Linked DNA regions of Homo sapiens. The protein of the gene in region 1 binds, or shares a complex with, the protein of each later gene. Each region holds a gene or a part of one and is shown in the gene's direction. Other genes may lie near its edges.

What was found. Proteins that work in one complex are often made in the same cells at the same time.
Region 2: ARMC7 (region 1) and SRRM1 share a complex: the UniProt entries of both Homo sapiens proteins name them as parts of the minor spliceosome.

The regions. Positions count from the first base shown.
Region 1 is NC_000017.11:75,108,571-75,112,318, forward strand, and holds the start of ARMC7 (armadillo repeat-containing protein 7), read left to right. Parts: upstream 1-1,579; 5' UTR 1,580-1,718; coding exon 1,719-1,809; intron 1,810-1,892; coding exon 1,893-2,036; intron 2,037-3,748. Other genes in the region: SLC16A5 (monocarboxylate transporter 6), read left to right, coding at 1,165-1,579. UniProt on the Homo sapiens protein: As a component of the minor spliceosome, involved in the splicing of U12-type introns in pre-mRNAs.
Region 2 is NC_000001.11:24,653,272-24,657,019, forward strand, and holds part of SRRM1 (serine/arginine repetitive matrix protein 1), read left to right. Parts: intron 1-1,034; coding exon of another isoform or gene 1,035-1,072; intron 1,073-1,583; coding exon 1,584-1,858; intron 1,859-2,380; coding exon of another isoform or gene 2,381-2,392; exon of another isoform or gene 2,393-2,419; intron 2,420-3,748. UniProt on the Homo sapiens protein: Part of pre- and post-splicing multiprotein mRNP complexes. As a component of the minor spliceosome, involved in the splicing of U12-type introns in pre-mRNAs. Involved in numerous pre-mRNA processing events.

The DNA.
Region 1 (3,748 bases):
TCAGCCTAAATAACAGAGAGGCTCTCTCAAAGAAAATGATATCTATTTGGGCATAGGGCATTGCAATGGTAGTATCCATGCCATAGTAAACTATATGGGTATTCAGGGAGGTAAAGGAAGACAGGCTTTAAGGGAAAAAATAGGATTACATAATTGTTTTGAAATATTTATCCTTAGGTAGAAGGATTAATAACAAGGGTGACCGCTCAAGGTTGGACAAGCGGTTGCTGGGCAGATGGCCATTCAAAAGTATGTTTTGTGCAAGGTTGTGACGCCCTTTGTGCAAGGTTGTGGTTTTTGCAGAGTCTTTGTGATAGTTTTCATTATCAGGTATTTATGCACGAGAACCCTCTTGTCATGGGTTTCTTGGGCTGTGTCCGGGTTTTTTTGTTCTGTTTTTTAACACAAGTGACTCCATTTAGATTAACAACTTTTGCACTCTCAGGACACTCACAGCCTAAGCCACCTCTACCCCTACGTTGTCAAATGCGATGGGAGTGTGGCTAGACCACCTCCTTCCCTGGTGCTTTGTTTCCTGTAACCACGAGCAATCTATCACACACCCGCTTCCTGATAATCTCCGAGAAGGAATCGGCCGAAGGGCTTCAGCATCCAGAAAGCCCCGAAAGCGCCACAATCAAGGCTCCTCCTCGGGCTCCCCCGTGCTGCCCCGGGCGCGCGCCATCCACCCGGCTGACAAAAAGCACCAGGACATGACCCAGTACCCTTTGATTTCTGTCCAGAGGTGGCGGACCCACCTCGGGGCTGGGATGGAGGGCGGGTCGGGGTCGCTAGGCTTTTTGCAAAAGGGGCAAAGGACTGATGGGGGGCGTAAGGAGCTGACGCCCGCGCTCCAAAGGGGCGTCCTGGTCAAGGAGGATGGGCCGCGCCCCCGCCAGCCGTGGGGACCCTGGAGGTGCTTCTGCCTCGACGTCCTCCAACATGGGTGCTGCCAGACTCTGCTGCGCTCCTGAGTTGCTCCTGGCGGAATTCCAGCCACCCGACATGGGTGTCTCATTTTCGGCTTCTGGGCCATGTCGGGACGGCGGAGGACCCCGGGGGACCGGCGGGAGAGTGGGAAAGGTGGGGCGGGAAAGCCGAGCGAGGCCCTCACTCGCCCATCTGTTGGCGGGGGCGGCAAGTGGGTTTCTTTCTTGCGTTCAGATTTTGCAGTAATTTGCATCTGGACATGGGATACGGGAGGCCAGGCTGCTCCTCGCAGTACACCCACCCACGCCTGCACCTGCCTCAGCGAAGCCGCTCGCCGCTGGTTCCAGCACAGGCTAAAGAGCTTCGGCATCCAGAAAACCAGAAGCGCGCCGCGCACGCGCGCCAAGGAGTTCGGCGACGGCCCCGCCCCTTCGGGGGTAGGGACAGCGCGGCTTCCGCCGGGAGCCCGGAACCGAGCCCAGGAGCCGGGGACGGTGCGCCAGTGCCCCCTCCGCGAGCCCCAACCAGTAGACGGTTCCCTGTCTCCCGCGCCCCAATTTCGATTTTCAAACGCAACTCCTACAGGATTCTGAGACCCCGTCCCATCTCCCATATCCCATTTCCAGCTGCAAATTACTGCAGAATCTGAACCCAGGAAAGAAACCCATTTGCCGACCCCCTCTTCCCTCTCCAGACAGGTGGAGAGCGGGTGAGGGTCTCGCTCGGCTTTCCCCCTGCACCTTTCCCACCCTCCCGCCCGTCCCTGGGGGTCCTCCGTCACCGCGGCCATGGCCCAGAAGCCGAAGGTGGACCCCCACGTCGGGCGGCTGGGATACCTGCAGGCGCTGGTCACGGAATTCCAGGAGACCCAAAGCCAAGGTGAGAGCCACGGTGGGATCAGGTGGCAGGGTCCGCTGTGACCGCCGCCCGGACCTGGCTTCAGTGCCGCTTTCCCGTTGCAGACGCCAAGGAGCAAGTCCTCGCCAACCTCGCCAACTTCGCTTATGACCCCAGCAACTACGAGTATCTGCGGCAGCTGCAGGTCCTGGATTTATTTCTCGATTCGCTGTCGGAGGAGAATGAGACCCTGGTGGAGTTTGCTATTGGTAAGGGCGGGGCCCGTTCCCTAGATGCCTAAATGGGCCAGGGTGAGATAAGTGAATTAGAAGTGAGTCCTTGGGGCCGGGCGTGGTGGCTCACACCTGTAATCCCAGCAGTTTGGGAAGCTAAGGCGGGCGGATCACCTGAGGTCATGAGTTCGAGACCAGCCTGGCCCACATGGCGAAACCCCGTCTCGTACAAAAATTAGCTAGACGTGGTGGAGAGTGCCTGTAATCCCAGCTACTAGTGAGCCTGAGGCAGGAGAAGCTTGAACCCAGGAGGCAAATGTTGCAGTGAGCTGAGATCGTGCCACTGCACCACAGCCTCGGGGACAAGAGTGAGACCCCGTCTCAAAAAAAAAAAAAAAAAAAAAAAAGCCGCACACAGTGGTGTGCACCTGTAGGCCCAGCTACTCTGGAGACTGAAGCAGGAGGTATTGCTTGAGTCTGGGAGGCAGAGGCCGAAGTGAGCTGAGATTGTGCTACTGCACTCCAGCCTGGGCGACAGAGTGAGACCATGTCTCAAAAAAATATGTTTTAAAAAGAGCAGTTTTGTAGCCGGGCGCGGTGGCACACACCTGTAATACCAGCACCAGCACTTTGGGAGGCTGAGGTGGGCGGATCACCTGAGGTCAGGAGTTCAAGATCAGCCTGGCCAACATGGTGAAACCCCATCTCTAACTAAAAATACAAAAATTAGCCGGGCATGGTGGTGGGCGCCTGTAATCCCAGCTACTTGGGAGGCTGAGGCAGGAGAATCGCTTGAACCCGGTAGGCAGAGGTTGTAGTGAGCCAAGATGGCACCACCGCACCCCAGCCTGGGCAACAGTGAGACTCTGTCTCAAAAAAAAAAGCAATTTCAGGCGGGTGAGGTGGCTCACACCTTTAATCTCAGCACTTTGTGAGGCCGAAGCAGGGAGATCACTTGAGTTCCGGAGTTCAAGACCAGCCTGGGCAACATGACAAAACCCCATCTCTGCTTTAAAAAAAAAAAAAAAAAAATTAGTCTGGCGTGGTGTCCCAGCTACTCAGGAGGCTGAGGTGGGAGGATTGCTTAAGCCTGGGAGGTCAAGGCTGCAGTGAGCTGGGATTGGGCCACTGTACTCCAGCCTGGGTGACAAAACGAGAATCTGTCTCAAAAACAAAAATAACTCATATTTAGTGTTTTCATATCAAGAGAAGCAGAGATGGCTTGCAGTCTGTAACTTATGGCTTCTGTAGTTGTTATGATCTTAAGACCTATTGAGTTATTCACTGGGTAGATATTTATTGCGCGTGTACCGTATATGCAAGCTACTGCTCTAAATGCTGGAGTATGGTGAACAGCTTAGGGAAAGGTCTTTGCCCCTCAGGAGCTTACATTCTAGTAGGGGGGACAGGTGGTTAGCAAACAAAAAAGATGATGCTCAGAAGGAAGTAAATGGGGTGATGAGAGACAGCAGTGGAAGGTGGGGGTTACTTCAGTTTTGGCCATCATGAGAAAGGCATTTTAGCCGGGACACAGCATGGGCAAAGGCCTTAAAACAGGAAGGAGCCAGACGGAAGGCTGATGTGGGAGGATCGTTGCAGTGAAGTGGAGAATGGCACAAAAAGAGTTTAGAGAGTTCAGTGGCACCAGAGCTTGCAGGAGTTTAGATCTAGGCCGTGGGAAATAGTTTGAAGCAAACAAAATTTTGAGAACAAACAAAAATTCCTTTTTCAAGCAATGCAGTGCCCAC
Region 2 (3,748 bases), on another chromosome or scaffold:
TTTTACCCTTCTAGACTTCACCAAGAAATCATACTAAGTAAGAGAATTGGCCACCTTCTCTTTGGCTTTTAACTGGCTTCTGAAAAGTAGCTGATTATAGGGCCAGTAAGCTCCTTTTACCAGTATTAAAGTAATTCATTTGCTGTTATACTTTGAGAAAAGTATTTTTATGAATTTTTTATAAAATTCTCAGAAAATTCTCATTATAGAAGTAATGAAGCTTATAAGTAATTCAGACAGAAATAGCATAACTTGGAAGTTTTCCATAATCCGTGGGGGAATATATCTATATTCCATAGATATAATTGCTATTACTAGTTTAGTGTCTGGTTATTTTTCAAAACCCCAACTGTACCAGTGTTCTTTTTTTTACATCATTCTAAAATGAGCATAAGATAAAATATTTGAATCTTGGATATATCACTTTAAACAAAAATTAGTGGCTAAGTCTACCCAAAGTAGAGTCCTAGTGCACTGGTAGCAGTTTTTGTGCCTTCTTGCAATACGTTTCACCTGGCTTGGGAAGAAATGCCGATGATTAAGCTTCCAGTTATTTTGGACAGAATTTTTTGTTTGAGTCTTTTAAAGTTCTTTTCAGGGAACCAAATCAATTTGGAAATAAAGAGGGGAAAAATCAAGTAAGCTCTGTAAAGTTACTTTGTTTCTGCAGTCAGGTTTTTCAGAGTCCCATATTTTGAAAATTTTCTTTGGGGAGGGGTTGTTAAGATATATTGAACTATTACTACTGTTGCAAAGAATTGATGTGTTGTGCTCATAGAGGAAATTAGTGAGGTAAATGGTCAGTCAATTTTCAGGCATCACACTTTTCTAATTCCCTTTTAGGAGAAAAGTAATGCTGGTGCTTCCTAGTACAAGATTAGTGGAAACAGCTATTTCTTATACTGGAGTTTTGCAAACAGCATGTTTAAATTGTGCTTACTCAGCCATTTAGCAGTCAATATTTTACAGATTGTTTAAGATTCCCTTTCAGCCAGTTTTTATCTCACACTTAAGGTAGGGTTTCTTTTTTTCAGGTTCTCAGGAATTCTTCCGCCAAAGGTGAATTCTGCAGGTACACATAATTGCAACAGAACTTAACACAAATTTTGCCGCAGAATTCGAGAGGCCCCTGCTTCTAAGTTTATGTAGCTAAATGAATTCTTAGTTTTGCACATCTTTTTTAAAAATGCAACCTAAAGGTTTCTCAACATTGTGTTATTAAATGGAAAATACCTTGCCCCCAAATTTTATATGCAAACTCCAAAACACCAATACCATTCCTAAGGCAGAAGGACTAGTTAGTTATTTTATTATAGCATTCAACCTGACAAGTTTTATAACTGGAGAGAGAACACAGACAGAAGTATTTATCAGATTAAGTTGTTTATATTAATCTCAGAACTAGCTGTTTCCTGGCCTAGGTTATGGTTTTTTCCCCCATTCTTTTGGACTCATTTATGTGCTTAGCTACATAAACTCAAAAGTCGGATTAAAATAGCTGTATTTTTGTGTAAACTGTTCATACCTGTAAGGCCGTTCTTTATAAGTGTGCAATTAGTGAATATGAATACTTTATTCCACAGAAGAAGACGTTCGTCAGCATCCTTGTCTGGGAGTAGCTCATCATCCTCTTCATCTCGTTCACGGTCACCACCAAAGAAGCCTCCCAAGAGGACATCCAGCCCCCCTCGGAAAACTCGTAGGTTATCTCCTTCAGCAAGTCCTCCAAGGCGAAGGCACAGGCCATCACCTCCTGCAACTCCACCACCCAAAACTCGGCATTCCCCTACACCCCAGCAGTCAAACCGTACAAGAAAAAGTCGTGTTTCTGTGTCTCCAGGGAGAACTTCAGGTAAAGGTAAAAATCAAACACATATGAAACATGGTCTCTCTTTCTTTGGCTACAAAGCGTAGTCAGTTATTGCCCCCTGCTCACTCTCAAAGTATGAAATAGCTAGATAATATTTGTATCTAATACTCTCTGTAGGTTTACTTATAAGCCTACCTCTTTCCTGCTTTAAAATCTTGGGGCTTTTTTATGTGTAAAAGGGTTTTGTTTTTAGCAATGCCCTGTGGCATTGCGCAGGTGGAGAAATCTTTTACCAGCCGTGGGCTGTTTGAGTTGGGGTAACATATCAAAGTTTGCGTTGGCATGATAAGGGATCATTTTATTACTATGAGACCAGTTAACTTTTTTTTCTCCTGAAGATTTTTGGTTTGATATCTTAAATAAGAGGACTTCATATTCTCTTTTAGTTCTTTCTTGGTCGCATTGCGCTCCCAAGCAAAGGACATGGTGTCCTCTTAAAAGCTGATTTGTTTTTTTAATTTAGGTTCTAGGCAGGGTTCTTCTGAGTGTTGTCCTTGCTTTATTCTGCAGATTGATTTCTGAGGAATTTATGATCTGTGAACCTGCCAGGCAAGTAGAATGCTGTGTTAGTCTGAGTGAAGGTTGTGGTCTATTGGGGTTTGTTCTGTGAGCATTAAATACGCATGGAAAAAACTGTAGTGTCCATTTGAACCAGGCTCTCTGGAGCTTAGGGCTGGAATGATATACAGCCTAAAAGGTGAGTAGTAAGGGATGGGGAGGATCTTAAAAGCTGCTAAAGCAATTGAGTTTTAAGGAGCAATCTGTAGGTTAACACACGCTGGGGTTATTATGATCATATTGAAAATTTCAGGTTAGAGCCAGGTGTGGTGGCATGAGCCTGTGGTCCCAGCTACTCAGAAGGCTAAGGCAGGAAGATCACTTGATCCCAGAAGTTCAAGGCTGGCCTCAGCCCCATAGCGAGATCCTGACTCTTAAAAAAAGAGAGAGAAAAAATTTCAGGTTAGAAACAAAGAAATGGGGATGGGCAAAATTTTCATTATACATTTTAATGAGCTTGATGAGACCAGCATTGCTAATTATTCACCCTGTTGCCTTATCTCCCCACTCCCCAAGGCTGCAATGTGGTGATACCTAGAAAGGCAAATTTTGCTTTCCTTTTTTGTATCTGTGACAATGAGGCATAGATAAGCTGACAGAGTGAAAGGGTGACCAGCAGATTATGATAGTCTGTAAAAAGTAATGTTTTCTGAATTGTGACATTTTTATTGTAGTGATAGGTTCATTAAATAAGACATGGCCACTTTTGTTGGCCCCTTAGAGAAGCAGCTAGTGAAAGTAGAGAAGCCTGTAACTGTTCCAGGTTCAGTCCTCAGTTTGAGAGAGGGGCTTCGGGATCACTGTTTTCATAACCTCATGTACCATACTGCTTTTCAGCATTGGGAAAATTTCAGTCCATTTTCAGTTACCATGTCCAAATCTGATGCCCATGGCCCTGGCCTATTTTGTCTTTTCCTGTAAAGTTTGTACTTCTGAATATTTATTCTTTGTCTGGAGCCACAAAGCTCTCCAGGGAAAAAAACAAGTGTTTTTACCTGTTACTTTGCAAAAACACATCAAGTGATGATTTTTTTCTATTTATATCATATAGCCTAAGAGTTGCAAAAGTACCTGAACAGAGGGACCAATCCTTGTTAAAATAGGTTGATTGTTAAGAATTATTAGGTACTTTTAAAAAGCATCTGCACAGATGCTAATTTCTTGTGTTTTGGCATATACTTTTTGCAAACAAGACAAGAGTGGATATGTACATAGGAAAGAAGTAAGCCATGGTGAAAATAAGTATTTCTGTGGGTTTTGGGACAGGGCTTCCGTGTTCAAACAACCTACCCAAAGAGAGGCACTACAGGCAGTGTAGTC